Linked DNA regions of Homo sapiens. The protein of the gene in region 1 interacts with the protein of each later gene in a pairwise test. Each region holds a gene or a part of one and is shown on either strand. Other genes may lie near its edges. The genes, in order: SYNDIG1 and SLC41A1.

Region 1 (15,473 bases):
GAATATGGTGTTAGGTAAGGGTTCAACTTCATTCTTTTGCATGTGGATATCCAATTTTTTAGCACCATTTGTTGAAAAAAAATGTCCTTTCCCTATTGAATGGTGTTGGCACCCTTGTTAAAAATCATTTGATTGTATAAGCAAGGGTTTATTTCTGGGCTCTCTATTTTATTCACTTGGTCTATATGTGTGTATTTATGCCATATCACACTGTTTTGATTCTAGTGCCATTGTAGTAAGTCTTAAAATCAGGAGGTGTGAGTACTCCTACTTTGTTCTAAGTCCAGCCTGAGCTCCTTGAGATTCCATATGAATGTTAGAATGGGTTTTTCTGTTTCTGCAGACAACATTACTGGGATTTTGCTACTGATCGCACTGAATCTATAGATAACTTTGGGTAGTACTGACATCCTAGCAATGTTAAGGTTCCCAGTGCATGAATATGGAATGTCTTCCCATTTATTTGTGTCTTCTTTAATTTTTTTCAGCAGTGTTTTGTTTGTTTGTTTGTTTGTTTGTTTGTTTTTGAGATGGAGTCTTGCTCTGTCACCCAGGCTGGAGTCCAGTGGCACGATCTCAGCTCACTGCAACCTCTGCCTCCTGTGTTCAAGAAATTCTTCTGCCTCGGCCTCATGAGTAGCTGGGATTACAGGCGCCCACCACCACGCCCAGCTAATTTTTGTATTTTTGGTAGAAATAGGGTTTCACCATGATGTTGGCCAGGCTGGTTTCGAACTCCTGACCTCAAGTCATCCACCCACTTCAGCCTCCCAAAGTACTGAGATTACAGGCATGACCCACCATGCCCTGCCTCAGCAATGTTTTGATGACTTCTTTGTATGAGTCCTTCACCTCATTGGTTCAATTAATTCTGAAGTATTGTGTTCTTTTTGTTGCTATTGTAAATGAATTTTTAAAAAATTTCTTTTCAGATTCTTCATTGTTGGTATATAGAAATGCAGCTGATTTTTTGTGTATTAACTTTGTATCCTGCTACTTTGCTAACTTCATTTATTAGTTCTAATAGATTTTTTTGTGGAATCTTTAGGGTTTTCTATATGTGAGATCATACTTCTTCCTTTCCAATTAAGTGCCTTTTATTTCTTTTTCTTGCCTAATTTCTCTGGCTACAGTTTTTAGTACAGTGTTCAATAAAAGTGGGAAAAGTGGGCATCTTTGCCTTGTTCTTGATGTTACAGGTGCTTTCACCATTGAGTATGATGTTCACTGTGGATTTTTCAAATATAGCTTTTATTTTGTTGAGGTAATTTCTTTCTATTCCTAGTTTGTTTCATGTTTTTATCATGAAAAGGAAAAGCATCAATGCTTTTCCAGAAATGCTTAGTAGAAAGGCATTAAATTCTTTTTCTATGTCAATAGAGATAATTACGTATTTTTTGTCTTTCATTCTGTTAATGTGGTGTATTACAATGATTGATTTTCATGATTTTAACCCTCCTTGCATTCCAGAAATAAATCTCACTTGATCATGGTATATGATTCCTTTAATATGCCGCTTAATTCAGTTTAGTAGTATTTTGTTGGGAGTTTTACATCAGTGTTCATAAGGCATATGGGTCTGTAATGTTCCTATGGTGTCTTTTCTGGCTTTGGTGTCAGGGTAATGCTGACCTCATGGAATGACTTAGGAAGTGCTCACTTCTCTTCAGTTTTTTTGGAAAAGTTTGAGAAGGACTGGTATTAGTTCTTTAAATGTTTGCTACAATTCACCACTGAAGCCATTTTGTAGAAAATCTCTATCTATTGCCATAAAACCCTAAAACTCTTTGACTAAGACAGAAAAAATCAGAGCTGAAAGGGACCTGAAAACTTTCCTTGCTCAATCACCCCATTAATAGTTCCACTTTCATAAGCCACTTGCCAACAGTCAGATATTTAGTAGCAAAACTAGGGCTGAATCTCTGGCCTCGTGACTTTTAGTAAAAAGTGTTCTTTATACCGTGACAGTCTCCAAGTAAAAAAATGTATATGTGTTTATGTAGAATATAAAACTTGTATAGAATATGTTGTATACCTACTTTCTGACTTATATTTTTCTTTCACAACCCCTCAATTTTCCCACTCACCTGATATTCACCACGACTCATGGTTAGCTGTGCATGTTAGTAACTCCCCAGGAGAGTTCTTACAATAGTGTTATAGAAAGAGATTAAGAACTAGGGACTCAAATGCAAGGCCACAGAGGCCCCTCTTCATCCTGTCTCCTCCTCCAGCTGCCTTCCTCTATAAGGAAGCAGGTGGAGCATGATTGGCCAGTGATGCATTTAAGGCGGCTTCCTCTGCCAAGCTCAAAACCAGACTCCCAGTCTTATAAGATGATGACACGGGGAACTCAGTGGTTGATGCAGCCCAGAAAGTGTTTGGTCAAGAGAAGGGAGCATCCTAGACATAGCAGAGACTGCTTATGCAGAAATAAAGAGTCAGGCAGGAGGCTTTCATCTCTGTAGCTACTGGTTCTGAGTATCATCGACTGAGAAAAAAATAAATAAAAAATCCCACAAAAGTTATAAAGGGAATTGGAAGAACAGTAGCACTGTCCTGGGGCAAGACTCCGGAGTGCATTGGTACAGAGAGCCATGTGGATAACCCTAGATGGCAGCCTCATTAGAGGCATTCTCTCTCCTCCCATCAACCCAGTTTCATCTCTGAGCGGATGAACCCAGGCCCAGGGAAAGGCTCTGAGCAGGTAGGAGTGGGTACCAGCAAACGTGGAAGGAAATGAGCTAATGGGAATTATGAAGCAAAGGCAATATATATGACAAACCAGTCTGTGTTGAAAGAGATATCGAAGGATGCGGAAATGACAAAATAAAATTCCACTAATTTTGATCCCTTTCATTCATACTTAGTCATAATTTATGATACTCAAAATTGAAAAAATTCACTTCAATAAGAAAAAAAAGTTGTTCTTTTAAAAAAATAAATTGTTTGACATAATTTGAGTACATTTTAAAATTTAGTAAATAATCAGTTGTAAAATCAACTTGTTCAGCAGGCCAAAATGTGCACTGTACACTGTAGCCCAGCACCTCCTCAGCTTTAATGTGCAGACTCATCAGCTGGGATCGTGTTAAAATGCAGATTCTGATTTAGTAGGTGCAGGTGCTACTCAAGATTCTGCATTTCCAACAAGCTCCCAGCTGGTGCTGATGCTTCTGGTTCTCAGCAAATTCTGAGTGGCCAACTATAGAGAGCACCCTAGGAGACCAAGCTGTGCCTCTCTCAAGATGCCTCAGTAGCAGATTCGTGTTTGGGACTTGACACCTCAAGATCATCACTAAGTAGAGATTATTGCAATCACATAATTTCCTGCTTGAATGAACAGCCATGTACCTGGGAAGAGCTAATCGCCTTTACAGATTTGCAGTTCTGTTTTCCTATGGACTTGTCAGATGCTAATGCGATTGGGTTTACCTGTGGGTTTCAGGATGTCTGCTAGCAATCAAAGGTTCCTCTAGGCTGCAAGGGAGCCAATTCCTGCAGTCTCCTTCATTTGGAAGCAGAGACTTTATAGAGATTCAGGTAATCAATTTCTGCTAACTCTGGCTAGCCGCCCCCACAGACCCTTTTTAACATTCACTGAATAGGTAGGACTGCATTTTATCTAACTCTCACAGTTACTATGCGTTTATCAGCTGGCTGGTACAGTCTGAAACAATGTGGGTCTGGGTGATTAGCTTGTTTTCAAGTGTGATTCTCTTGTCTCATCTCTGTTTTCTCCTCCTCCAGGAGAAATGGCTTCCCTGAGGCAAGTGTAACCTACATTCCCAGCCCACCAGCCTGACGCCCAGCCAGGGAGAGAGTACCATGGATGGCATCATTGAACAGAAGAGCATGCTGGTGCACAGTAAAATCAGTGATGCTGGCAAGAGGAATGGTTTAATTAACACCAGAAACTTGATGGCCGAGAGCAGAGATGGTCTGGTGTCTGTTTACCCAGCGCCCCAGTACCAGAGCCACCGGGTGGGGGCCAGCACAGTGCCGGCCAGCCTGGACAGCAGCAGGAGTGAGCCGATGCAGCAGCTGCTGGACCCCAACACCCTGCAGCAGTCAGTGGAGTCCCGCTACCGGCCCAACATCATCCTCTATTCAGAGGGCGTGCTGCGCTCCTGGGGGGACGGTGTGGCCGCCGACTGCTGCGAGACCACCTTCATCGAGGACCGGTCGCCCACCAAAGACAGCCTCGAGTACCCGGATGGGAAGTTCATTGACCTCTCAGCTGATGACATAAAAATCCACACCCTGTCCTACGATGTGGAGGAGGAGGAGGAGTTCCAGGAGCTGGAGGTCACAGGATGTGTTTGTCAGAGGCCCTCTAAGAATGTGTGATGGGGATTCTAGGGAGGGCAGGAGCCATGAATGCCTGGCAAAAGTTAGGGAATGAAACTAGTGTGCAAAAATGCAGAAACCAAAGGCAGTCTTGGTGCCCTTCACTCTTGAGTGCTTATGGAAGATAGAAGGAGAGGAAAGACTTAGATTAACAGAAACCCAGGGGCGCTTCACCGGTGATTCTGGTATGAGATGACCCCAGGTAATGGCTGCAGATGGCAGTGCTGGTGGGTTCATCGGTTTTCCCTGCTCTCCCGCATCCCATGAGACAGAGAGGTCATTGACAAGATGAGAGAGGGACACCTGATCCTAGAGCCACATGAGGCTGGAAATATACTTGACAGGGGACACTTTGGGAGGTGCTTCTACTGTCACCTGTGGTTCCTTGACTTTGCATTCCACAGTTACTACTGAGAGATTGTTGATAGAGCTGAACCGTGCTGGAAGAAAGTGTAGGTACTGATAGCCTGAAGGGAAGATAAGTTGACTTCTTAGATGACTCGCTTCTTTAATGGACTGGAGGGCAGGTGACAGCATTTGAATTACATGCACAGAGATGTACACACTGCACGTTGGATATAGTGTGGTAGGCACAGTGGTTGCTGAGTGTGTGGCACATTGTCCCCCCAGGACAGCACCGGTGAGAGGGTGAGAGCAGCTGCTGCAGGCCATGGACTAGCGGTTTGCTGCCCATGCCTCCCAAGTCATTCCACTGCAGTGAGGCCAGGGGTGTTTTCCCAGGACGCGATGTCAGGGAAACACGTGCCAGGCTTTCCGTCAGTTTGGTGGGGAAGGAAACCGCCGAGCAGGTCCAACCTTCAGAGGCAGTGTGTGGCCAAAAGGGGAAGGGATGTCTGTTTTTCACTAAGGTAGGCGAGAACATTTTTGTAGGTGGAGAGGAAATGTTCAGAATGGAAAATTCAGGATCGTGGCCAGCAGCTGGGGAGTGGTCTTGGGGAGGCAGGAGCTGAACTCCAAGCATGTATGTGTGAGAGCTGGCCTCTCAGAAGAAGTCCACATGCTGGCCTGGGAGAGAAGAGAAGGGTGGGGTAAGGGAAAGTTTGAAGGGCTCTGGGTTGAAGAGGAAGAAAAGGAGGGGTTCGTGTTGGCTGAGCATCAGCACAGCCAGAGAAGCTCCTGGGGTGTGAGGAGATTGCAGACAGTCTAGAGCAATGAACTGGGGGAAGTGCCCATTCTAGAAAAGACTCCTGGAGAAACTGCCCAGCTGCAGTATGAGTTTGTGTGAAGATCTGGTCAGACCCAGGGCTCTGTGACTTTCTGCAGCCATGTGGGACCATCTTTAGCAGGTGAGGCTCCCTTGGCAAGGTGCACTCTGCCTGGAAGGTGGAGGAGGCAGGAGAAAGCAATAGGGAGGAAGTTTGGAGCAGAATCAGACCCACAACCATGGGACCCCACACTTGATAGAAAGGCCGGAGAAATTGCAAGGGAATGACAGGCCAAGGAGACCAGAGGATCAGGATTGGAGAGACCCCATTGAGAACCAGGAGCTGAGAGATCCAGCGTTAGTCAGGAGGGAGGATTAGAAATGGAGAGGGAAACTTTGGTGCAACTCCAGCCGGTGGAGCCCGGGAAGCCCACTGGCAGGGAGTGGAGAGTCGTGGCATGGAAGAGGACCAAGACGTGATGCCTGGGCATCTGCGCAGGCCCCAATGCCCTCTGGTGACACCTGTGAAGGGAGGGCACTCACGCTGCAGCTGTGGAAAGTTGGGAGCATGCTTGGCTTCTGTTCAGAAGCCTCTGCCCTGTCTACTAAGTTTTCCAAGATCTGAGGGCTTTGCTGACAGCAAAGCGTAAATGCTGCCCGACTCGCATGGAGTGGAATTAGAGAGGCAGATGCACGAAAATGCAGCCCCAGGAGTTATGGGAATGGAATACCCCATCAGCTCTGAAGAGGGTCTGGGGCCCTGAGCTCAATGCGGGGTTCAGAAGTCATCACACAGGCAGGAGCCCTCCCCCGGCTGAGTCTTGAGGATGAGTAAGAGGAGGCTTGAGGGGAGCTTAAATAAAAGCTAGGAATGGGTGGGGGCAGACACAGACTTGTCTGTCTTAGTAGGTCCAAGGCTCTGACAAGTAGTATAGACTTCTGGGGAGGTAACCTTTCCCACCCAGTCCTGCTTCTCTGATCTAGCAGCAGAAGTGGAAGCCCACCAGAAACAATTCTTTTAATAATACAGCAATAAGAATCTTTAGTCATAATAACGGTGCCTACTCTGTATTAATATTTCTAGTGACTTTTGAATATAACGTAAGATGGAGCATGTTGGCATTTATACTAAAGTAACATCGATGAAACAGCAAGTTGTTTACTTAGGCACTTTAGTGAGACTTTCTGGTCGGCTTCCAAGGAGCTCACCTGGACCAAGAAATGGCCCCTTCCACAGGCTCTGAGCAGAAGGAATGGAGACACATTATGGCTGCTGCTGCTTCTACATGCGGCTCAGGATGCCAAGGAGGATTTCAGAGCCTCACCACGGTGGTTAACTTCGTCCTTTTTCTCTGAAAACAAAGATTTTCTCAGAAACATTCTTACAGTATAGCTATGGTGCTTTTCATTCCCTTCTTCGGTAATTAACAAAATACTAATGACTGGTTAGAAGTGTCATTGAACATGCAGTAGCTGTTCTTTGGTTTACTGTTTTCTCCATTCCATTAAATAATAAAGGGTCATGTATTGGTTAGCATTTGCTGCATAACAAATCACCCCCAAAACACAGTGCCTTAACAACTCTTTCTTCAGCTTATGATTTCTGAGGGTCGGCAATTGAGCTGGGCTCAGCTGGGTGATTGTTCTGCTGGTCTCACCTGGGCTCACTCACTTGTCCATAGCTAGCTGTGATAGGCTGGGAAGCCAGCCTCTGGTGGGCTGTTGGCTGCAGTGACAGAGGTAACTGCATCACCCAGCTGTCACCCATCCTGTCCCAGGCTTCATTTTGCGGCAGCCAGAGAGGTGGGGCCCACTTTGTGAGGGCTTGTCAAGTCTTTGCCTGTGTCCTGCATGTTACTATCTCATTGACCAGAGCAGGTCCCACAGCCAAGCTCAGTCAGTGTGGGAGAGACTGCTTAGGGTCACAATATAGGGAAGTGATAACAAATTGGGTGCCAGTACTGCAACCACAGAGCCAAAAACCATAGACTTTTGGCATCATTTTTTTTTTCAGATGGTCTAACTGAACAGAATGACAACTACTGAAACAAAAGAACAGTGAATACTGATCTGAGCTCTTTCCAGAAGGCAGTTCTACTCAGCCAAAAAAGAAAAAAAAATGTGATTTTTAACTTCTTTGAGTATTGTATAGCTTCACTTGGTTTATAGCAAATGGATACTGTTTCCCAAATAATGCCGTTTTCAAAAAGCCATTGCCCTGGTTCAGAATGGGGCCCCCTCATTGCCCTTGTTCAGAGGGGGCCACCTCATTGCCCTTGTTCAGGGCCCCTCCCATTGCCCTGGTTCAGAGTGGGGCCTTCTCATTGTCCTGGGTCAGAGCAGGGCCCCCTCATTGCCCTGGTTCAGAGCAGGGCCCCTCGTTTCCCTGGTTCTGAGCGGGGCTCCCTTGCTGGAGCTCCTGGGCACTGGGTGGCTGGCTGTGTTTTCCCCAATCACTTTCCCAAGACAGGTGCATCCCTGGCATTTATGAAGGAGCCTCTCCAGGTCCGAAGAGGTCGGCCTGTCTGACATATGTTTGCAAGGGCATGTGGAGCGTTCAGTTTGCCTTCGAGGTTGTGGTAGTAACAAGAACAGGTTCTATGGCTAACTTTGAGAATATTTATGGGAGGTTCTCAACTATTCGGCAAGTGTTTATGATCTGTCCTGCTCCACCTTAAGTCGCCAAGTAGAGCATGGCTTGACATTAGACAGGTAGATGTAGGGGACCTCTGGGGCTTTGCGGGAGTGCAGAGGTGCCATGCCGCTCATTATCTAGTGCCACTGCGCTCAGGGTGACAAGACAGGCATCCTGTGGGGGTGCCCTCAGGGCATCCTGGGTAGTGATAATTGGGCCTGATGTCCGACAGCCCAGGCCTCTTCCCAGGTATGTGAACACTGCTTCATCCACTTCCCAGCCAGTAGCTAAAAACTGCTGTCTCTGGGAATACCAGCAGTGGGAAGCCACTTCTCCTTTCACACAAATAAACTCAGAGAGACTTCAGGGACAAGTAATGAAGTAGGTCTACAAAATATACAATTTGAGTTTACAGCCATGAAATGAAGTGGATGGAGTCCAGGTGCAGAGGCCTGACCACCCTCCTGCCCTTAGAGATGGTGACCAGATGTTGAATGGCACTTACCTGTGGCAATGCAAAACCTCTCAGACCTGAAGTACATGACGGTCACCACCTAGAAGCGGTGCCCATGGGGGCTGAGCCTTTTCTTCACTGAAGGAAGAAGGGGGAAGGGAACGCTCATCGATGGAGCACCTTTTCTGCCACGCCCTCCAAGTGCACTTGGCCATCGAATCCTCGAAGCGCTTGGGGATGGGTCATGGTGCTGTCCTCATCCTACACGTGGAGAGACAGAAACTTGGGGTGTTTCCAAGATCACACACGTGGCTCTGCTGTCAGCCCTTGGATCTGAGACAGATCTCCTGACTTTAGACTCTGTCTCCTCATGATGATGCTGTTCTTTCTACATTAGGGGGAAAAATGTGTTCCAGTAAACTTCTGTTTCAGCATTATGCCAGAGTCCAAGGACAAAGCAGGAAGAGACGGCACCAGGACTTCACTTCTGTGAACTCTCCGCCAAGCTTTCCAAGGCCTTCCAGTCTGTCTTCCCATGTAAAAACTTGAAAGCTGTTGGAGGACACAGAATTCTATAACTGCAATAGAGCACTTTACATATACCTCAGTCATAAGTATGGAAAGAGGGGCGAGGACTCAACACACATGTGAAGAAAACCCAAAAGCATGAATGAGACAGAACAACAACAAATAGAACAGTTGACCCAGAGGAAAGAGAAAGAGTTCAGAAAATAATAAACAGCATTTTGAAAATTATTTTTAGTATCTCCAGAGAGATTTGAGGTGCTGCTGATTTGGGTGGAAGGAAATTTGGGGGTTTTGTTTTGCTCATTTGTTTGTTTACCTCATAGCACTGGCCAGAACCTCAAATACATTGTTTAGTGTGAGTGAACGAACATCCTTGCCTTGCTCCTGATCTTAGGGGGAGCTTTTAGCTTTCATGATGAAAGGTGATGTTTTTGTAGTTCTTTGTAGACACTCATAATCAGGTATAGGAAGTTCCCTTTGTCACTACTTTGTTGAAGAGGTTTTTTATTTTATTTTTTATTTAATTTTATTTTTTAATAGACAAATAAATGGGATATTCATATTCATGGGGTATATAGTGATGTTTTGATACATGTAACATATGGTGATCAGATCAGGGTAATTAGCATATTCATTATCTCAAACTTTGATCATTGCTTTGTGTTGGGAGCATTCAATAACCTCCTCTTAGCTATTTGAAACTGCATAATATATTATTTTTCAACTGTTTTCATGCTACAGTGCTGTAGAACACTGGAAGTTATTCATATCTAGCTGTAATTTTGTATGTTTTAATACATCTCTTCCTATCTCTCCCTTCCTCCTACTCTGCCCACTCTCTACTATTCTTCCTTCTACTTTTACTTCTATAAAATTAACTCCTTTTAGCTTCCACGAGTGGAACATGCAATGCTTAACTTTCCCTCCTGACTTATTTCATTTAACATAATGTCCTCCAGTTTCATCCATATTTGCTGCAAATGACATAATTTCATTATTTTTTTATGGCTGAATAGTATCCTGTGGTGTTGAAATGGGAGAGTTCCCTGATTCCCCTTGCAGGACGTGGGGTGGGTGTGGTTCACCTGTTCTGTTGCTGCTCAAACCCCTTGCAGGACTGGAGCATGCAGAAGGGCAGGTGCAGAGGCTGGGGCGAGTGCTTTATGCTCTGGCCTTGCAGTAGTGTCTAGGGGTGGGTGACTGCAACCCCACTGTTACAAAGCTCTTTCAGCTTTGCTGTCCACAGACGGCTTGAATACTAACAGGCTCAATGGGCCCTTTGCCTTTTCGCAAGGACAGAGGGCTGGATCCAGAGCTGTTGCCCAGCATCCTGGAAAAATCAGGTCACATACGGGCTTGAAGGATGAATGTGAAGTTTTTTTGAGTGGTAGAGGTGGTTTTCAGTGGGATGGATGTGGAGCCGGGAAGGATACTGGAGTGGGAAGGTGATCCTCCCCTGGACTTGGGCCACCCAGTGGCTGGACTCCTCTCTGACCATCCCCAACCAAACTCCTCTCGGCATTCAGATGTTCCTCCTCTTCTCCCTTTCTCTGCCATGTTGTTCTGCCATCTGTCTATTTGCTGGTCTTCTGGCTTGCTAGTCTGCTTCTGGGTCCTGGGTTTCAGGGTTTATATGGGTGTAGGCATGCGGGCCAAAATACAACTTTTTGGGTACAAAAACAGGAATGCCTTTTCTCACTTAGGGCCACAGATATCCAGGCTTGAGGATGGGGCTTTGCCAGGAAACTGCCCTCTTCTACCCAGTATTTCCCTGATTCCTGTCCTATCAGTGTACAACTACCCCATTTTCTTTATCCATTTATCTGTTTGTTGTTGGAGACCTAGGTTAATCCCATATCTTGGATATTGCGAATAGCACTGCAACAAACGCATGGTGTAGATGTCTCTCTAATATACTGATTTCGTTTCCTTTGGATAAATGCCAAGTAGTGGGGTTGCTGGATTGTATGGTAGTTCTATTTGTGGTTTTTCTAGGGAGTTGCATATGGGTGTTCAATTCGTCAGGTACTACTTAGGTAATCATGTGTGGTGTTTCTTTGTTGTCCTTTATTTTTTCATCCTTTAATCATGTGGTATATTACGTTAACTGCTTTTTTTTTTTTTTGAGACGGAGTCTCTCTCTGTCGCCCAGGCTGGAGTGCAGTGGCGCGATCTTGGCTCACTGCAAGCTCTGCCTCCCGGGTTCACACCATTCTCCTGCCTCAGCCTCCCGAGTAGCTGGGACTACAGGCGCCCGCCACCATGCCCGGCTAATTTTTTTTGTATTTTTAGTAGATACGGGGTTTCACTGTGTTAGCCAGGATGGTCTCGATCTCCTGACCTCGTGATCTGCCCGCCTCGGCCTCCCAAAGTGCTGGGATTACAGGTGTGAGCCACTGCGCCCAGCCTACATTAACTGCTTTGCAGATAACAGACCATCCTTGCATTTGGGGGTAAATCCCACTTTGTCGTGGTTTATAATCCTCTTTAAGTGTCACTGGATCTTTTCTAATCCTTGGATAAGGATTTCTGTGCCTATATTCATGAGGGATGTTGATCTGCAGTTTTCTCTTCTTGTGCCATCTTTTCTGGGCTCTAGTATGAAGGTAATATTGGCTGCATAGAATAAGTTGGGAATTATTTCTCTCTTTATTTTCTGAAAGACTCTGTTTAGTATTGGTATGATTTCTTTTTGTTTGTTAGAACTCACCAGTGAAGGCATTTGGGCCTGGCCTTTTCTTTGTGGGAAGATTTTCAATTACTGAACTGATTCTATTACTTTACTAGTTTAAGTCTCTTGTTTTAAAGAAAATCTGAAGATCGTCCTTTATTCTTGTCCCAGTTTTAGTATTGTGACACCTAATTTGTTGGCATGAAGTTGTTCATCATATTCCATTTAAATCCTTTTACTTTCTGTATGGTTGGTAATATTTACTCTTTCATGCCTCATTTTAGTAATTTAAGTTTCTCTATTTCTTTCTTGGTCAGTCTAGATAGAAATTGATCATTTTTTGGATCTTTTCAAATAGCTGACTTCTGGTTCCATTGATTTTTCTCTCGTTATTTAGTTTTCCATTTTATTAATTTTTTACTCAGATATTTATGACATCCTGCCCTCTGTTTCCTTTGGCTTAAATTTGTTCTTTTTTACCTATTTTTTTTTTTAGGCGTGAGCTGGGATTACTTATTTGACATTTGTTTCTTCTTATAATGTATATTCAAGGCTATCACTTTCTTTCAAACACTGTTTTAACTGTGTCCTGTAAATTTTGATTTGTTGTGTTTTAATTTTTATATAGTTGAAAATACTTCTGTAGCCATTGTGATTTTTTATTTTTCTAATGAGTTATTTATTAATGTGTTGTTTAATTTCCAAATATTCAGGGATTTTGTTGTTTCCTATTATTTATTCTTAATTAAATCTCATTAAGGTTGAAGGACATAGTTTGTATAATTTCTCTTTTAAATTGATTGAGACTTGATATGTGGCTTAGTGTCTGATATGTTCTGGGGAATATGCCATGTGAACAAGGAAAGAATGAGTGTTCTGTCCTGCAAAGTGTTTTATACAGATTCGCAAGGTCGTGTGAGTTAATTCCTGTTCGTGTCTCCTGTTCTTTCTGTTTGTCTGCCTAGTTGTCACAATTAGGAGTGGAGTATCAGAAATATTTACTTTTAGGGAATTGTCTATTTCTTTCTTTTATTTTGTCAGTGTTTACTTCATGTGTTTTGGGGCTCCGTTGTTAAGAGTGTGTACATTTATAATTGTTATATCTTGCTGAACTGTTGGCCATTTTATTATAAAGCTTCTGTCACTGAAACACCAGGGGTTCCATCTAGAACCTGCTGCTCCACACACAGAAAGCCAATCACTGAGACGATTATTGCCAAGGAAGAGGGCTTTTTTAAAAAATTATTATTATACTTTAAGTTTTAGGGTACATGTGCACAATGTGCAGGTTAGTTACATATGTATACATGTGCCATGCTGGTGTGCTGCACCCATTAACTCGTCATTTAGCATTAGGTATATCACCTAATGCTATCCCTCCCCCATCCCCTCACCCCACAACAGTCCCCAGAGTGTGATGTTCCCCTTCCTGTGTCCATGTGTTCTCATTGTTCAATTCCCACCTATGAGTGAGAACATGAGATGTTTGTTTTTTTTTGTCCTTGCAATAGTTTACTGAGAATGATGATTTCCAATTTCATCCATGTCCCTACAAAGGACATGAACTCATCATTTTTTATGGCTGCATAGTATTGCATGGTGTATATGTGCCACATTTTCTTAATCCAGTCTATCATTGTTGGACATTTGGGTTGGTTCCAAGTCTTTGCTATTGTGAATAGTGCTGCAATAAACATACATATGCATGTGTCTTTATAGCAGCATGACTTATAATCCTTTGGGTATATACCCGGTAATGGGATGGCTGGGTCAAATGGTATTTCTAGTTCTAGATCCCTGAGGAATCGCCACACTGAAATCCACAATGGTTGAACTAGTTTACAGTCCCACCAACAGTGTAAAAGTGTTCCTATTTCTCCACATCCTCTCCAGCACCTATTGTTTCCTGACTTTTTAATGATTGCCATTCTAACTGGTGTGAGATGGTATCTCATTGTGGTTTTGATTTGCATTTCTCTGATGGCCAGTGATGGTGAGCATTTTTTCATGTGTTTTTTGGCTGCATAAATGTCTTCTTTTGAGAAGTGTCTGTTCATGTCCTTCGCCCACTTTTTGATGGGGTTGTTTGTTTTTTTCTTGTAAATTTGTTTGAGTTCATTGTAGATTCTGGATATTAGCCCTTTGTCAGATGAGCAGGTTGCGAAAATTTTCTCCCATTTTGTAGGTTGCCTGTTCACTCTGATGGTAGTTTCTTTTGCTGTGCAGAAGCTCTTTAGTTTAATGAGATCCCATTTGTCAATTTTGGATTTTGTTGCCATTGCTTTTGGTGTTTTAGACATGAAGTCCTTGCCCATGCCTGTGTCCTGAATGGTAATGCCTAGGTTTTCTTCTAGGGTTTTTATGGTTTTAGGTCTAACATGTAAGTCCTTAATCCATCTTGAATTAATTTTTGTATAAGGTGTAAGGAAGGGATCCAGTTTCAGCTTTCTACATATGGCTAGCCAGTTTTCCCAGCACCAGTTATTAAATAGGAAATCCTTCCCCATTGCTTGTTTTTCTCAGGTTTGTCAAAGATCAGATAGTTGTAGATATGTGGCATTATTTCTGAGGGCTCTGTTCTGTTCCATTCATCTATATCTCTGATTTGGTACCAGGACCATGCTGTTTTGGTTACTGTAGCCTTGTAGTATAGTTTGAAGTCAGGTAGTGTGATGCCTCCAGCTTTGTTCTTTGGCTTAGGATTGACTTGGCAATGCGGGCTCTTTTTTGGTTCATATGAACTTTAAAGTAGTTTTTTTCCAATTCTGTGAAGAAAGTCATTGGTAGCTTGATGGAGATGCCATTGAATCTATAAATTACCTTGGGCAGTATGGCCATTTTCACGATATTGTTTCTTCCTACCCATGAGCATGGAATGTTCTTCCATTTGTTTGTATCCTCTTTTATTTCATTGAACAGTGGTTTGTAGTTCTCCTTGAAGAGGTCCTTCACATGCCTTGTAAGTTGGATTCCTAAGTATTTTATTCTCTTTGAAGCAATTGTGAATGGGAGTTCACTCATGATTTTGCTGTTTGTCTTTTATTGGTGTATAAGAATGCTTGTGATTTTTGTACATTGATTTTGTATCCTGAGACTTTGCTGAAGTTGCTTATCAGCTTAAGGAGATTTTGGGCTGAGACAATGGGGTTTTCTAGATATACAATCATGTCATCTGCAAACAGGGACAATTTGACTTCCTCTTTTCCTAATTGAATACCCCTTATTTCCTTCTCCTGCCTAATTGCCCTGGCCAGTACTTCCAACACTATGTTGAATAGGAGTGATGAGAGAGGCATCACTGTCTTGTGCCAGTTTTCAAAGGGAATGCTTCCAGTTTTTGCCCATTCAGTATGATATTGGCTGTGGGTTGGACATAGATTGCTCTTATTATTTTGAGATATGTCCCATCAATACCTAATTTATTGAGTGTTTTTAGCATGAAGGTTGTTGAATTTTGTCAAAGGCCTTTTCTGCATCTATTGAGATAATCATGTGGTTTTTGTCTTTGGTTCTGTTTATATGCTGGGTTACATTTATTCATTTGCGTGTATTGAACCAGCCTTGCATCCCAGGGATGAAGCCCACTTGATCATGGTGGATAAGCTTTTTGATGTGCTGCTGGATTCGGTTTGCCAGTATTTTATTGAGGATTTTTGCATCAATGTTCATC
Region 2 (16,327 bases), on another chromosome or scaffold:
TGTGCTGACGTCGTCACTTTCGTTGCTCTGGCTCCCGTTCTCCAGCAGGGCGTCCTCCTCCCGAACCCCCTTGGCGTTGGCCCGAGACTCAATCACCACCTCTACCCCAGCCCCATCAGGCCCCAGGAACTCTGAGGTCCCAGCCAAGGGCTCTCTCCCTGGGCCATCTGAAGAGCAGGGAGAGGCAGAAGGGCCAGTCCCGTTCAGTTGGTGGACGTCCTTCGGCTCTGGCTTAGAGGACATGACAGGCACGGAGGAGGGGAAGGGAGAACTTTCCTCTCTTCTTTTTGCTTTCTCTCTTCTTCTCTAACTTGGGAAAGAACTTAGTCTTGGGGTGAACCCAGGCTTGGGCGCCGCAGGACCTCTTCCCACGGCTCTCCACTCCTACCAGGCACTGCAAAAACTGATCCACCAACAGGCAGCCCCATCAAGCACTGAAGCCGCAAGCTGGGAAGAAACAAGAAATTCCTCACCAGACAGCCACTAGGGGTGCAGATGCCTGACTCCAACCCACCAGCTCTGTGCTTGAAGAAAAAGTATCTGTCCTCTTATCTTCTTTGGTTCTCAGTGGCAGGCTCCTCAGAGCAGGGGGCATCCAGAGTAGAAGAGCTCAACCAAATTCTGGGGTGCCCTCTGAAGTGGCCCCTCTTCCGTAAAAAGCAGCTTGAGTTCAAATCTTTCAGAACACAGTGCCAGCCTGGGGCTGCGGCTCCTTCCCGCTCCTTTGGCTGGGCTCTGTCAGCTTCCCACAGCTCCTCAGGCTCTGCTGGTCCCAGCGCAGCGTCTGCCGTCTTTCCCTTCTCTTCCAGAAACTTCCTCCCTTCCTGGGAAGAGCTAATACCTCTTCAAATCCCTGGTCCTTAAAGTCACGAGAATCAGTGTGGAACACCTTATGTGGGAAGGAGAAAGAAAAGAAAAAGAACATTACACTATAGCAAAGGACAGCTTGTACTGGGAGAATTTCCCCCCAAGGAAGTTAGGAGTTCATCATATAGCTATAGAGTTTGCTATTTGCCTCCCTTTTTCCGCAAAAATTACTCAGTCCTGCACTGCTCCATCTGGAGGCTCAGCAGGAGCTATCCCCGCCATCCTCCCCACCAGCAACCCTCCTGAGGGATCACCACCGTGGTCACCAGCAATGAGATGTGACCAGCCTGGGATTGGGAAGATGCTGTGCAGAAGCCCTCTGCACTGTTTCCTCAGCAACTGGGGGTGGGTAGGTGTGTCCTCAGCAAGACCCCTTCTTGAATGCCCATTAAGAACCCTGCATTATTTAAGTGGGGTTCAGTTACAAATTCAGTCACAAACTCCCTGCCACACAGCCACCCCTGTATAAAGTGACTGCTTATCATCACAAGACAGCAACAGAAAGACAGCCACACAGGGCAAAGAAATAGGGAGAAACTGATTGCTGAGTGAAGTCCCCCAGACCCCAGATCGTTCTAGCTTCTGAGAAAACAAAACAAAGCTAGGAGGACTCCCTGGGCAGTGGGGCAAGCCTGCCAGACCAAGGCCAAGAGCCAGAGGCCTACCCACTCCTGCCCTTGAGAGTCAACAGTGTTACAAAGAGCTCAGACAGCTGACTCGGATCCAGGCCTCTGTCTCTCCCCGTCTCCCCCTGCTCTTGGCCCTGTGAGCTTGTCAGATAGGACAAGGGAGTTATCTCAGTTAGAAGGGACAGAGCATAAAACGATTGCTTATTACCCACGCATTTCAGTTAATTAGGCTCCTCCTGTTCCCCAGGGTTACTGAGAGTTGGATATAGTGGAATTCTTAGAAACAAAAACAAAAAAACAAAAGTAGCAATAAAAAAAACCCAAAACAAAAACCAAAGCACCGTAAGCCAATATGCACTTGCTCCAAATGCATCTCTTTAGCTGTAATGGCTCCACTTCTCTGCCTAAAGGAATCCCCAGGCTTCCTAATTCCTGATGGACTCCCATCCTATTCCATTTCACCAGAAGAGCTCTTATTCGTAAAAAATAAATTTAAAGAGAGTTCCACCAGGTAAGAGGAACAGGTCCTTAAGTATTCCAAACACACACAATTAGTCAAGTTCAGTTTAGGAAAGGAGGTATCAAACCCCAGGAACTGGCCCAGGAGAACTGTTTCCTCTATCAATTCAGTCACCCACCAGGACTCCCTTTTCCAATCTCCTTAAACACAGTACTGTGGTTCTTTCAAACTCCCTCACCAGAGATCCAGGAGGAAACCTCTGAGTCCAGTGCCCCTATGCCAGAAAAGTTTCTGAGTCCGCTAAAAGCTGACACCCCCGCCTCCCTCCTGTGTTCCTGGCAGGCCACTGAACCTGAGAGGGGGCTCCCAGGAGGGGAAGCCAGTCCTCCCTCACCACTCCCCCTGTAAAGAGACTTCAGACAGGCCTAAGGCCCTGGGACGAAAGAAGCAAAAGTGAACCAGGACGCCCTATCCCCTCCTCCCAGGCGGGGACAAAAAAGACCCATTTTAGTATCCCCAACCCCGAGGAGGGAGAGAAAGTAACTGGGTGGCCTCCTCAGTCTCTCCACCACTCAGATTCAGCAAATGCGCTGCGCGCCAGGACTGCCGCCCTCCACCACCCCCTCCCCGCCCCAGGACCCCACAGGACTGACCTGCCCCTCGCCTGGGAGGAAGGGGGGCGCCTGGCAAGTGGCAGCGTGGCCCGTGGTCTCGGGGGGTGCAGGGCACCCCCTCTTCTCATCACTCCTCCTCGACAGTCCTCCTTGGCCCCCGGCGTGCCCCCCCACACCCCCAGCCAAGGCGAGCGTCCAGCCGCGACACCCGGCTCGCTACATTTCGCTTCTGCGTTACAGCGAGGCCGCCGCTCCGCTTCCACGCGGGGGAGGTGGCCGGGGAGGGCAGGATATATCGCTTCGGGCCCGGCGGGGGGGCACCCGGACGGGGGACCGGGGAGCCGAGCTCACGCGCCCCCAATCGCTTCTTGCCCGCGGACTCGGGCCCAACTGGTTGGCTGCCGGTGGCAAACGTGATCTGGGGCAGACTGGGTGGCACCCCCCCCGCTCCATCAAAAATAGATTCTCGGATGGACAACAGCAGCAGCCAATCAGGGACTGGGGAGGGGGCGGGATCAACCTCGGCCCGGCCCCCTTCCTTCGCTTCGTGCCCAGGAGGCGGGGCGCCGGGGAAACGCAGTAGGAGGAGTGACGGGAACCGGGAGCCGGCTCCATGCGCCTGGAGCGCGCGGGTCCCAGCGCCCATCGGCCCGGGGTCCGAGGGGCCCGCTGCCCGGGCTCGCTGCGTGGTGCTACCGCCCCCGGGCCCGCTGCGCCGCGTCGGAGCCCCAGCAGACTTTGAGAGGCGTGTGCGACAGTGCGCGTCCTCTCCTGCCTCTGGATGTTTCCTTGGAGCCTCTGGCCTTCGGGAAGACCGGTAAACGTCCCTGTGGAGCCAGCCAGCCAGCCACCTCTGACCCCCGGGCTCAAGCAGCCAGCCGCGTGCTCCCTCCTCCCACTTGGTACCCGGACAGAACAGTCCCTACCTTGCTCTTCTCCCGCCGGCTCGTCACTTTAGGCTCCCTCCAGATTCCGCGTTCCTTGAGCAAATGGCTCACCCCTGACGAATCCGGCCTTAAAAAAGTCCCGGCCTTGAAAGGGGTGGAGACTGGCGGGCGGGAGCGAAAGGAGGTCAGACCCATGGCTGGGGTCGCACACGCATCACCTGAGGTCGGAGAGGAGGGGAGCCTCACTTCCTCTGACCCACTGAGCCTGGTGGCAGCGTGCGGAGAGATGTCACCATCCCGGACTAAATGAAATCCAACTTTCCCTGACGCACCTTGTGGGATCAAAGAGGGGTGTTCCCATGCTCACCTTTCGCCACTTCCTCCCTGGGGTATCTCCACCTCTCCAACACAAGCTCAATGCCAGTTCTCTTTGGGATGTTTTTGTGCAGGGGGTGTGACCTCCCTCATAAAGGAACCCCCACTCCCAAGTTTTCCCCTCTTGTCAGTGGAACCTGTGACCAACGGTTCCTTCCTGTCCTTTTCCTCCCTGAAAGTAGCCCGGGGGCATTCGAACATGGCTCTAGACCCCTGAATAGGGTTTGGAGCGGAGATGTGCCTGGGGAGAAGAGATCGCAGTGCTGTGTATGAAGCTTTGGGCACGTGCTCACAAGAGCACACACAGCAACCTGAGCAGGTCATTCCTTTTGATAAGGATGACAAATACACATACCAAACCCTGTTCCCCTCACCCACCCCAAACCAGTACCCCCAGGATGATTCCAGATCAGCTCTGGAGCATTTGCATCAAGGGCCTGCAGACTCACAGGACCTACTAGAGCAAAATATCAGTGTCTCAGACCCCAGTTTTGGCCTCAAATACTGGGTTTTTCTGCCAGGAGAAGTAGCTGCTAGTCTAGGAAATGCTGGGACTTGTCCAGAAAGATGAGGTTTGTGAATACGGGGTGTGGGGTTGGGTGGGGAATTAAGGCTGATGTATCTGGAGGAACTTTGGTTGGGCTGGAGGCAACTTCTGCCCTGTTCTATTCAACAGTTCCCTCCCCTCCACTACCCCATTTAATCTGGCCACAGCTCAGCTACCTGTGTATAAAATCTTGATCTCTCTCCTATTTCCTTTCTACCTTCCGTGTTTTTACTTACTCGAAAACTGTTCCCCTCTCCTGTGTGTATTTTTTTAATTGAAATATACCAGGCATTTAGGAAAGGAACACGAAACCTAAGTGTACAGGTCAACAAATGATGACACAGTGAACACCCCCATATGACCACCATCCAGATCTAGAACGAGATCATTATTGGCATCCCAGATACCCTCCTTCTATCCGCTCCTGGTGACTATGCCACACTCCTTCTCAAAAGTAACGTTTATCTAACACTACAGGTTAGTTTTGCTTACTTCTGAACTTTATATACATGGAACCATTCAGTAGGTATTATTTTGTGTCTGGCTTCTCTCACTCAATACTATGTTTATGAAACTCATCCAAAACATTGTGGTAGCAGTAGCTTATTTGTTTTCATTGCCGTACGGTATGCCATTAAATAAATATACCACAATTTATCTGTTATTCTGTTGACGGACATTTTGGTTGTTCCTACTTTGGGGTTATTATGAATAAGGCTGCGATAACGTTTTTGTTCATGTCCTTTGGTACACTTACGTTCATATTTATACTAGATATATACCTAGGAATAGAATTACTGGGTCATAAAAGGATATGCATATTTTTAGCTTTAGCAAATGCGACTAAACAATTTTTCAAAGTGCTCATATTAATTTACACTCCTGCCAGCAGCGTCTTAGTGTTCCAGTTGCTCTATATTCTCATTAACACTTGATATTGTCAATCTAGAAAAATTAAAAAATTTAGCCATTCTGGTGGGTGTATAGTGGTATTGTAGTTTAAATTTGCTTTATCCTGATAACCAATGAAGTTGACCACCTTTCCATGCATTTATTTGACCCTTGGATATCTGTTCAAGTATCATGTCCATTTTCTATTATTCTATTCCTTCTGTCTTACTACTTTTTTTTTTTTTTTTTGAGATGGTATCTTGCTCTGTTGCCTAGGCTGGAACCTCTTGGGTTCAAGTGATTCTCCTGCCTCAGTCTCCTGAGTAGCTGGGACTACAGGCACATGCCACCATGACAGGCTAATTTTTGTATTTTTGATAGAGACAGCGTTTCACCATGTTGGCCAGGCTGGTCTCTAACTCCTGACCTCAAGTGATCCGCCCGCCTTGGCCTCCCAAAGTGCTGGGATTATAGGTGTGAACCACTGAGCCCAGCCCTGTCTTACCACTTTGTAGGAGTTCTTTATGAATATCAGATACGAGTCCTTTGTTGGTTATAGGTATTGCAAATATTTCTATGAGTAAATAAATACAAAAGCCCTTGGTTTTGGTGTCTTCTGAAGTGTCAGGGCCACTGGAACAAGAATATAATCTCTATATCTATTTTGATCACTAGTGTAAACCCAGCTCCTGGCACATAGTAGGTACTTAATAAATATGTTGAATGAATGATGGATGAGGTGGATAAAGCTGATGTAGGTACTTTGCTCTGTATTGTGCTGATCCCTAGAGTCAAACACCAAGAGGACCTGGGGGAAGCAGATTTCCTCTGGCTTAGCCAGCTGTGACCTTAGGAAGAGGAAGACATCCTGGCCCTTCTCTACTGAAAGAGCAGAAATAGCTACAGTCTGTGAAATGATGAGCACAGATGTAGGGAGCGGAGGTCACAGATGAAAAGACAGGAACTACCAGCAAGTAGCAGGCCAGCCAGATACTTCAGAAGGAGAGACGCAGTTGGGGGTATCAAAAAGATAGTGAGGGTCTCTGAGCATCACTGTGGACCTTTGTATGACAAGAACCTCCAAAGGTCATGTGGACTCTCTCTTGCCTCAAGACATGCCCAGTCTTTGAGCTTGTTAGCCAAGAGAGCTCTTCCACACCTAGAAACACATTTCTTTCTCCAAAGGAGGTTCCCTGAAACTTTGGTTGGAGGGTCTTATTCCTAACCTGCATTGGGCAACTCTTTTTTTAAAATCAGCTTTAACTTCCTCATGGCCTGTAATGTCCATCCTGAATATGGAAGACCACCGAATCAGCCTCTTCTCCATGCACTGTTTTCATAGGCCTGTTGCATTCTACAGCGTTTTTCTCTTGCTGTGTTTCTCTCCAGCATCCTTGACCAGCTCTGGTCAAGAGTCTCACTGATTCCTGTTACTCTGGGAGACAGAAATTTCCCCTTGCACCACCCTAACAAACTCACAGCATCCCCTCCTCATGTCTTTCAGAACATAATGTGGCATTTAACTAGAAGCTAGTAGTAGCACCCCAAATTTTTATATAAACTGAGCTTGGGGACGCCATCTAGTTGGAGAGAGGCTGGGTGACTTGTCATGAAACATCATTTGTATAGCAAGCACAGTGTTTTCATTTAGAATATGAGCATATGTTGGGTGTGGGGTGGGAAAGAGTGTTGTGGCAAAAGGAATTGTTGATCACTCCACAGGCAGGGGCCTGTGGAGGAGCCTGTGTGGGAAGGTCCTCTGTGGGGCAGCATTCTTCAGTCTTGCTTGGCACTTGTCCTAATATGTGGTTAATTTAGCCTCTATCCTGAGGTTCTCTTAGCCCCATGGCCTTCCTTCTGGGCCAAGTACTGTCTACCAATGGCTTCTCCATAGACTACCTGAATACTCATCTTGAGACATCATAAAATTCCAGAGCCCCATAGATCCTGGACCCCCTAACCAGCATGGCTAGTTGTAAGACTAGCCTGACGTGGCTGGAAACTTTTCTATCTTTTGTTCTGTGGGGGAGGGTGCCCCCTCCCATTTTTCCCCTTGCTGTGACCCCTCCGCTGCTCCCTCCCTCCCAGAGGTCAACTTCTTTCCTGCTGCCCAGAGCTGAGGTGACATCCCCTTCCGGCTTCATTCAGTTTTAGGAGGATGTAGTGATGGGGGTGGGATAGGGAAGTGTGGCCATCTGTGCTCAGCACTGTCATCATTCCCTTTGCTTCTCTATAACTGAGCTCCCTTTCCCCAAAGCCCCCTGGATACCCACCCTGGGATTCCCTTAGGCAGGATGGTTCCAGGTATTTGGAGCTGCAGCTCTGAATTTACTGAGTATAGCTGGGAAGCCTTGACAGCAAACAAAATGGTCTGGTGAACTATAACTGGGGATAGAAAAGTAATCTTTGAGAGGCAGTGCTGCAGAGTGGAATATGCCACAGCATTGTAATCACATGGATTTGAATCCATGAATGGCTCAGCAATTCATTAGGCACATGACCTTGGGCCATGTCTATCAAATGGAGACATAATTCCCTTTCTGCAATATATGTTCCATGGTGAGCAGTTCTATGCAAACCTACCCCCAAAGTCTGAGAAAGCTCAGAGGCCAAAGAGGCTGACAAATCTGGTTTCTTGAAAGAAGCATTTAATAGGGACTTGCGAACAGAAGCCCTGTCTATATCCCGGACAGCAGTAAGACCAGGGCTTGAATACCTTATAAGGAAGGAATACCTATACCTTACAGGGAAGGAATGTGTAGGACAATTGTAGGGAAAGGCGAGAATGCTATGTGAAGTTCCCTAAGGGCAGGATTTATGGTCAGTTGTTTTAACCTAAGAGCAGGATTTATGATAAGTATATGGTCTTACCAAGGAATAGTAGATAAAATAGAAATCTTAGAGGCATTTCCAGAACTGGAGTTAATCAGAAGTCAACATGGTGGATTAGCATCCAAGATGGAGTTGCATTAGCCTTCACAGATGATGAGAGGATTAGGATAATATAGCATTTGGAACATTCCCTGCACGCAGTAGGACTGTTAAGATCTCACCAAAGAGAAACAGCCAATAAACAGGGATTAGGCACTTGGAACGGGCAGCTCAGGCTTTTTCTGGGCCTCACGTGAAATTTTAGACTTCCCAGAGTGTGAGGGCATGCCTACCTGGAAAGGGTTAATGATGGACAGTCTCTTACATAGATGCAGGTAGGAGCTAATAGGGGCAGCAACCCCACAGTGGGTCACAAGCCAAAGATGAGCAAACTTTATCTTGCAAGAGCCAGGATGCAAAAAGACTGTATCTTGCAAACCAGATTACCTAGTTTCAAACTGCCCTCTGTGTTTACTGCCTACTGCTCTAGGATTATCCTCTAGACCAGGGTTTCCTAAACTGGCCTGGTCATAGGAATCACCTGTTGGGAACTTCTTTTAAAATATAGATTTCCAGGCCTCTTTCCTGGAAATTCTGTTTCCAAACGTCTGGTGCTGGGCCAGGAAACCTACCCTTTTAAATAAGTGCCCCAGGTGACTCCCATGATCCTACTGGGTTGGGAAACTGCCCCAGTCTGGTGGTTCTCAGTCCTGGCTGCATATTAGAATCTCCTGGGGAGCTTTAACAAAAATATACCTTTGTCACAGGAGGAAACACTGTGACAAAGGTATATTTTGTCACAGGAAGGCAAGGCTCAGGAAGTCTTCAAAGACATGGAGGTGCTTTGATTGAATCTGACTGTGTGGGTTTATATGCAAACTCATTTAATCCTAATAATTACCCTAGGAGGTAGGCTGTTGCAATATATCAGGTGGAAAATGAGGTCAGTGGGTTGGAGAATGGTAAATAGATTTAAAAGTTATTTAGGTTAGTTGTTAGAGAATTGCAAATCAAAACCACAATGGGATACCACTTCATATCCAGTAGGTTGGCCATAAAAAAAAAAGAGAGAAAATAACAGAAAATGACAAGTGTTGGTGAGAGTGTGGAGAAATTGGAACCTTGTCCATTTGCTGGTGAGAATATAATGTGGTGCAGCTGCTATAGGAAACAGTTTGATGTTTCTTCAGAAGGTTAAACACAGAATTACCATATCACTGAGCAATTTCATTCCTAAGTATATGCCTAAAAGAATTGGAAATGGGAAAGAATTATTCCAGTTAGAGAGAACAGAGTGAAATGGCAGGAAGGCAAGGGAGAATTTGGCATTTTCAAGGAACAGCAGGTTCTTCAACATGTGGTTGGATGCACGTAGGGACGTGTTAAATGAAAGATGAAATGGTAGGCTTTGGTGATATGTTACAGAGCTGAAGGCTTCTTTGACATGAACGTATTGTTTTATGCTTGATCACAAAGTCCTTGAACACAGAGACTTTATATTTTAAAATTTATATTAATTTTGAAATACCTTATATTTTAAAATTTCTGTGATGTTTGCTGACACCTTGTAATTTACACATCTGGGCCTTCTTTCTCTGTCAGACCGTTACATATGGAGTCTCATTCACTTGCATAGTGTCCATTTATGATGCTCTGTTCATGATGCCCAAATATCTTTGTCTTAGACTTCTCTTCTGAGCTCTGAACTTGGATGTCTCAGCACTTCCAACTTGTGATATCCAAAATGCGCTAGTTCTCTCCCAGATGTCTATTTCTTATTCTGTCTTCTCCATCCCAGAAAAGAGGATTCCCTCGCCCATTTGTTTGTCAGCCATCTGGGAGTCATTCTTGACTCCTTCCTCTACTTCCCCGCCTCCTCGCCCACCACCCATCAATCACCATTTGCCATCCATCGACTCTACCTCCTAAATAACTTTTTTTTTGGATTTATTTATTTTTTGAGGTAAAATTCACATAACATGAATTTAACCATTTTAAAATGTACTATTCATTGGTGTTTATTATATTGATAGTGTTGAACAACCATCACTCTGTCTAGTTTTAAGACATTTTCATCACCCCAAAAAGAAATCCTGTATCCATTAGCAGTCAGTACCCACTCTCCCCTTCCCTCCCCTCCTCTCCCTGCTTAGTCAACCACTAGTCAGTTTTTGTCTCTATAGATTTCCCTATTTTGGATATGTCATATACATGGAACCATGCAATATGTAACTTTCTGCGAATGGGTTTTTTTACTTAACTTAATTTTGTTGTTGTTGTTTTATTTTTTGCCCTTAAATATTCTTCTATCCAGATGTTTTCAAGGTTCAACCACATCGTAGCATAGATCAATACTTCATTCCTTTTTATGGATAAATAATATCCCATTGTATGGATACAACACATTTTGTTTATCCATTCATCCATGGATGGACATTTGGGTTGTTTTCACCTTTTTTGATTGTGAATAGTCCTCTGTGAACATTCATATATAAGCTTCATTTGAATATCTTTTGTTTAATTTCTTTTGACCATATACCATTGTTGGGTGATATGGCAATTCTGTTTACTTTTTTTTTTTTTTGAGATGGAGTTTCACTCTTGTTGCCCAAGCTGGGGTGCAATGGTATGATCTTGGCTCACTGCAACCTCTGCCTCCTGGGTTCAGGTAATTCTCCTGCCTCAGCCTCCTGGGAGTAGCTGGGATTACAGGCATGCACCACCATGCCTGGCTAATTTTTTGTATTTTTAGTAGAGACAGGGTTTCACCATGTTAGCAAGGCTGGCCTCCAACTCCTGACCTCAGGTGATCTGCCCGCCTTGGCCTCCCAAAGTGCTGGGATTACAGGTGTGAGCCACTGTGCCTGGCCTTTTTTTTTTTTTTTTTTAACCTAGGTTGAACTTGAACTCTTGAGCTCAAGCCATCCTCCTGCCTCAGCCTCTCAAGTAGCCAGGATGACAGGTACACACCACCATGCCCAGCCTATGTTTAACTTTTTGAAGAAACACTAAACTGCTTTCGATAGCTGCTGCACCATTTTACATTCCCGCCAGCAAGGTACAAGGGTTCCAGTTTCTCCACATCCTCACCAACATTTATTATTTTACATTTTGGATTATGGCCAACCTAGTGGATGTGAAGTGGTATCCCACTGTGATTTTGATTTGCATTTCCCAAATGACTAACCTAAGTAACCTTCTAATTTGCCTACTTCATAGGGTAATTATTAGGATTAAATGATTATATATATATATACACATGCATACACACACACATGTGACTTAGAACAGTGCCTGGCATATAATAAATAATGTATAAGTATTAAAAAGAAAGTAGAAAAAGGAACAAAAGAACAGAAGGAAAGAAGGACCTCTTAGCTATACTTTCTTTCTTACTGTCCTAAGTCAAAGCCCACAATTCCACTCCTAATTTACAAGGCCCCAACTGGACTTCTTTTCTTTTCTTTTCTTTTCTTTAGCCAGAGTTTCACTCTTGTTGCCCAGGCTGGAGTGCAATGGCGCAATCTCGGCCCATCGCAACCTCCGCCTCCCGGGTAAAAGCGATTCTCCTGCCTCAGCCTCCTGAGTAGCTGGGATTACAGGCATTCGCCACCACGCCTGGCTAATTTTGTATGTTTAGTAGAGATGGGGTTTTTCCATGTTGGTCAGGCTGGTCTTCAGCTCCCGACCTCAGGTGATCCTCTGCCTTGGCCTCCCAAAGTGCCAGGATTACAGGCATGAGCCACTGTGCCTGGCCAACTCCTTTCATTTCATGAAGGTTTCAGGCTCTCATTTGCCTTATAGTCTTTGTCTACTGTATTCCCTGTCTGGCACAATTCTCTCCCTTGTCCCCCAACTCTTTGCCTAGCTAACTCACTGTTTTTTTGTTTGTTTGTTTTGTTTTTAAATTTAAGAGTTTTTTTGAGGTATAATATGCAATAAACAGCACAGATTTAAGGTGTACAATTTGATGTTTTGACATGTGTATACATCAGTAAAACATCACTACAATCAAGATAAAGAGTATATCCATGACCCCTGTGTTTCTTCCTGCTTCTTTTAATCTTTCTCTCTCAACCCATGCGTTGGGCCACCTGCCGTCTGTCACTACAGATGTTTTTCATTTCTAGAATTTCATATGAATGGAATCATGTAGTATATATCTTTTTTGTCTGATTTCTCTCATTCAGCATACTTATTCTGAGATTTATCCATGTTATGTGTATCAACAGGTTGTTCCTTTCTGCTGTTGAGTAGTGTTCCATCATATGGATGCACCTGTTTGTTTATTCATTCACCTGTTGATGGACATTTCAGTTGTTTCCAGTTTGGGGCTATTACAAATAAGGCTGCTATATGCAATGTGTGCAAGCCTTTTTAGGGGTATATATTTTCATTTGTTTTTGTTTTTCAAGTTTTGTTTTAGACTCAGGGGTACCTGTGCAGGTTTGTTAACTGGGTATACTGTGTGATGCTGACGTTTGAGGTATGAATGATCTTGTTACCCAGGTACTGAGCATAGTACTCAACAGTTAGTTTTTCGACCTTGTTCCCCTTTCCTTGCTCCCCTCCAACAGTCCCCAGTGTCTATTGTTGCCATCTTTATGTCCATGACTACCCAAACTTGTAAGTGAGCACATGTGCTATTTGGTTTTCTGTTCCTGTGTTAACTTGCTTAGGACAATGGCCTCTGGCTGCATCCATGTTGCTACAAAGGACACGATTTTGTTTTTTTTTTTTATGGCTGCATAATATTACATGGTGTATATGTACATTTTCTTTATCCAAACCACCACTGATGGGCACCTAGGTTGATTCCATGTCTTTGCTATTGTGAATAGTGGTGTGATGAACATGTGAGTGCACGCGTCTTTTTGGCAGAATGATTTGTTTTCTTTTGGATGCATATCCAGTAGTGGGATTGCTGGGTCAAATGGTAGTTCTGTTTTAAGTTCTTTGAGAAATCTCCAAACTGCTTTCCACAGTGGCTGAACTAATTTACATTCCCACAAAGAATGTGTAAGTCTTCCCTTCTCTGTAGCCTCGTCAACATCTGTTGTTTTTTGACTTTTTAATAACTGCCATTCTGGTTGGTGTGTGATGGTATCACACTGTGGTTTTGATTTGCATTTCTCTGATGATTAGTGATGTGGAGCATTTTTTTCATAAGTTTGTTGGCTGCTTGTATGTCTTCTTTTGGAGAGTGTCTGTTTATGTCTTTTGCACATTTTTTAATCGGGTTATTTGTTTTTTGCTTTTTCAATTGTTTCAGTTCCTTATAGATTCTGAATATTAGACCTTTGTTGGATGCAAAGTTTGCAAATATTTTTTCCCATTCTGTGCTTTGCCTAGCTAACTCTTACTCAACTTTGAAGTCTCAGCTTCAGTCATGACTTCCTCACCAGAGGCTTTCCTGATTTTCCAGACCAGGCACCATGTGGTATATAAAATAACACCTTATCTCTCAGACCCAGGCAAGAAAGCCCCCTGCCTCGAACTTAATGCTTTAGAAGGCATCATATAATATAACCACAAAGGAAATAAATCCATTAAAAACACAGAGATGCTTCTGTCCCTTGGGATTCTGTGCTCAGCACTGGCACAGAACAACCAGTAACACTGAACACACATTACTGAGTCTAATACAGTTCAGGCTCCGGAGGTCACTTCTTTATATATCTTGTTCTGTCTCATTTATTTAAGTTGATAGATAAACACTGTATGCATTTATTGTGTACATGATGTTTTGAAATATGTATACATTAAAAATATGGAGTGCTTCACATATTTTTGTGTTATCCTTGTGCGATTGTGTTGTTTTAATTGGAAATTTGTATTGTTCCAATTTTAGTGTATGTGCTACCTAAGCAAACACACTTTATGTCTTTAAAAAAGAAAAAGGTAACTGTGTCTGGATGCCCTGAAGGTTTGTGGGTTGTATCAGTGTGAACTTTGGAGGCCACTGTGGTTTTGGAGTATAGGCAGGAGTTGAGCTGTCAAAGTGCTTAGCTAAGAGAAAAGAAAATTAACTTGTCAAATGCTTCCTCTTAGGTAGCATGGCTGTAGTGGATTCCTTTTTTCTGAGACAGAGTCTCCCTCTATTGCCCAGGCTGGGGCGCAGTGGTGCGATCTCAGCACACTGCACACTGCACACTGCTTGAACCTCTGCCTCCCCGGTTCAAGCAATTCCCGTGCCTCAGCCTCCTGAGTAGCTGGGATTACAGGCGCATGCCACCACACCCAGCTAATTTTTGTATTTTTAGTAGAGACGGGGTTTCACCATGTTGGTCAGGCTGGTCTCAAATTCCTGACCTCAAGTGATTCACCCGCCTCAACCTCCCAAAGTGCTGGGATTACAAGCATGAGCCACTGCGCCCTGTCTGTAGTGGATTTTTTTTTTTTTTTGAGACGGAGTCTTGCTCTGCCGCCCAGGCTGGAGTGCAGTGGTCATCTCAGCTCACTGCAACCTCTGCCTCCTGGGTTCAAGCGATTCTCCTGCCTCAGCCTCCCAAGTTGCTGGAATTACAGGTGCCTGCCACCAAGCCCAGCTAATTTTTGTATTTTTAGTAGAGACGGTCTTGCCATGTTGGCGAGGCTGGTCTCAAACTCTGACCACAGGTGATCCACCTGCCTCAGCCTCCCAAAGTGCTGGGATTATAGGCGTGAGCCACTGCGCTCAGCTGTGTAGTGAATTCTTGCATGAAATACTATCTACCAGTAGTGCTCAGTGTCCATTTTCTTGCTCTGTTTTATGTTCCAGTTTCTGGTTCTGGAGGTACCCATGAATTAGTGTAGTGTTTGCAACATTGCACGTGGGAGCTAAGGAACATTTTGTAGTAATAAATAATTTATATTATCCTTAAATTTTTATATTTGTACCTCTAGATACAACATGTTAAACATGATACTGGTTCTTTTTATTGACATTAGATGGACACTGAATGCTAGAATTGCAAGTAGGTTTGTTTTTATAAAAATATTTCATTAGGCCAGGTGCAGTGGCTAACACCTGTAATCTCAGCACTTTGGGAGGCCCAAAGTGGGAGGATCACTTGAGCCCAGGAGTTTAAGACCAGTCTTAGCAACACAGTGAGACCCTATCTCTACAAAAAAATAGAAAAAAAAATAGCCAGGTGTGGTGACGTGCACCTGTGGTCCTAGCTATTCAGGAGGCTGAAATGGGAGGATCTCTTAAGCCTCGGAAGTTGAGGCTGCAGTGAGTCATGATCTTGCCACTGCACTCCATCCTGGGTGACAGAGCAAGACCCCCTCTCAAGAAACAACAACAACAAAAACCAACCGTCTTTGATTAGATTTGAATTTTCAAAAAAAAATTTAATGAAATGTTCAGCTCTCAAGTAGGAACTTTGTCTCCTATTATCTCCCTTGGATAAAAGGAATACTGGGTTTAGGATGGCCATGTTTTTAGCAACCCAGATTCACAATCAAGGGATTCCAGCCAAACTTTCTGTTCCCATTCTCTTTGCTTATGAATATTTTGTCTTCCTTCTCGCCTTAGGTAGTGAGGTGTAAAAAGCTTGAGCTAAGTCCTTGATAGGGGTGTAGGATGTACCTGTGGTTATCTGTTGGAGCTCTTTCATTGGGGGATTTGGGAAGTGGTCTAGATGGATGGGGACGGAGTGGCGGAAAGTCACCGATTTGTTGCCTCATCCCATCCAGAGTCTTTTGTTTTTTGAGATGATGGTCTCACTGTATCACTCAGGCTAGTCTCAAACTCCTGCCCTCAAGCGATCCTCCTGCCTCCACCTCCCAAAGTGCTGGGATTAAAGGCGAGAGCTACTGCGCCAAGCCCCAGCCAGTCTTGAGGCTGCTGTTGTTCCAGCCAGGCTGGGGACTTTGAACTGCTCTCTCGAGAAGCCTTCAGGGACCACTGGGCTGTAATTCATGCGTTCTCGGAGCCAGGATTTGTAGCAGTTCCCTCTCATGGGCTTCCTACCCCCTCTGGAGCTTTTTTTCTACAGCTGGAAGAGTGTAGTGAGACTAGAGGAGGAGAGGGTCTGCTGTTCACTCTTCTCCCAGTTGCTCTATGATCATTAGAGACCTGGTTGTTCCCAAACTCAGAGAAAAGGGAAAAAAGCTGAACCCAGAAGCTGGGGGTGGGGCTGGAAAGAAATGCTGGCAGACAGCGGGAGAGGTGTGAATAGGGAGAGTTCAGCCAGAGGAAT

The links.
Region 2: the proteins of SYNDIG1 (region 1) and SLC41A1 interact in binary tests that used the Homo sapiens proteins (3 or more experiments, as listed by UniProt).

What each region holds. Positions count from the first base shown.
Region 1 is NC_000020.11:24,539,270-24,554,742, forward strand, and holds part of SYNDIG1 (synapse differentiation-inducing gene protein 1), read left to right. Parts: intron 1-3,750; 5' UTR 3,751-3,828; coding exon 3,829-4,308; intron 4,309-6,599; coding exon of another isoform or gene 6,600-6,602; exon of another isoform or gene 6,603-9,360; intron 9,361-15,473. UniProt on the Homo sapiens protein: May regulate AMPA receptor content at nascent synapses, and have a role in postsynaptic development and maturation.
Region 2 is NC_000001.11:205,810,199-205,826,525, forward strand, and holds the start of SLC41A1 (solute carrier family 41 member 1), read right to left. Parts: upstream 3,001-16,327; 5' UTR 2,610-3,000; intron 892-2,609; exon of another isoform or gene 890-891; 5' UTR 244-889; coding exon 1-243. UniProt on the Homo sapiens protein: Na(+)/Mg(2+) ion exchanger that acts as a predominant Mg(2+) efflux system at the plasma membrane.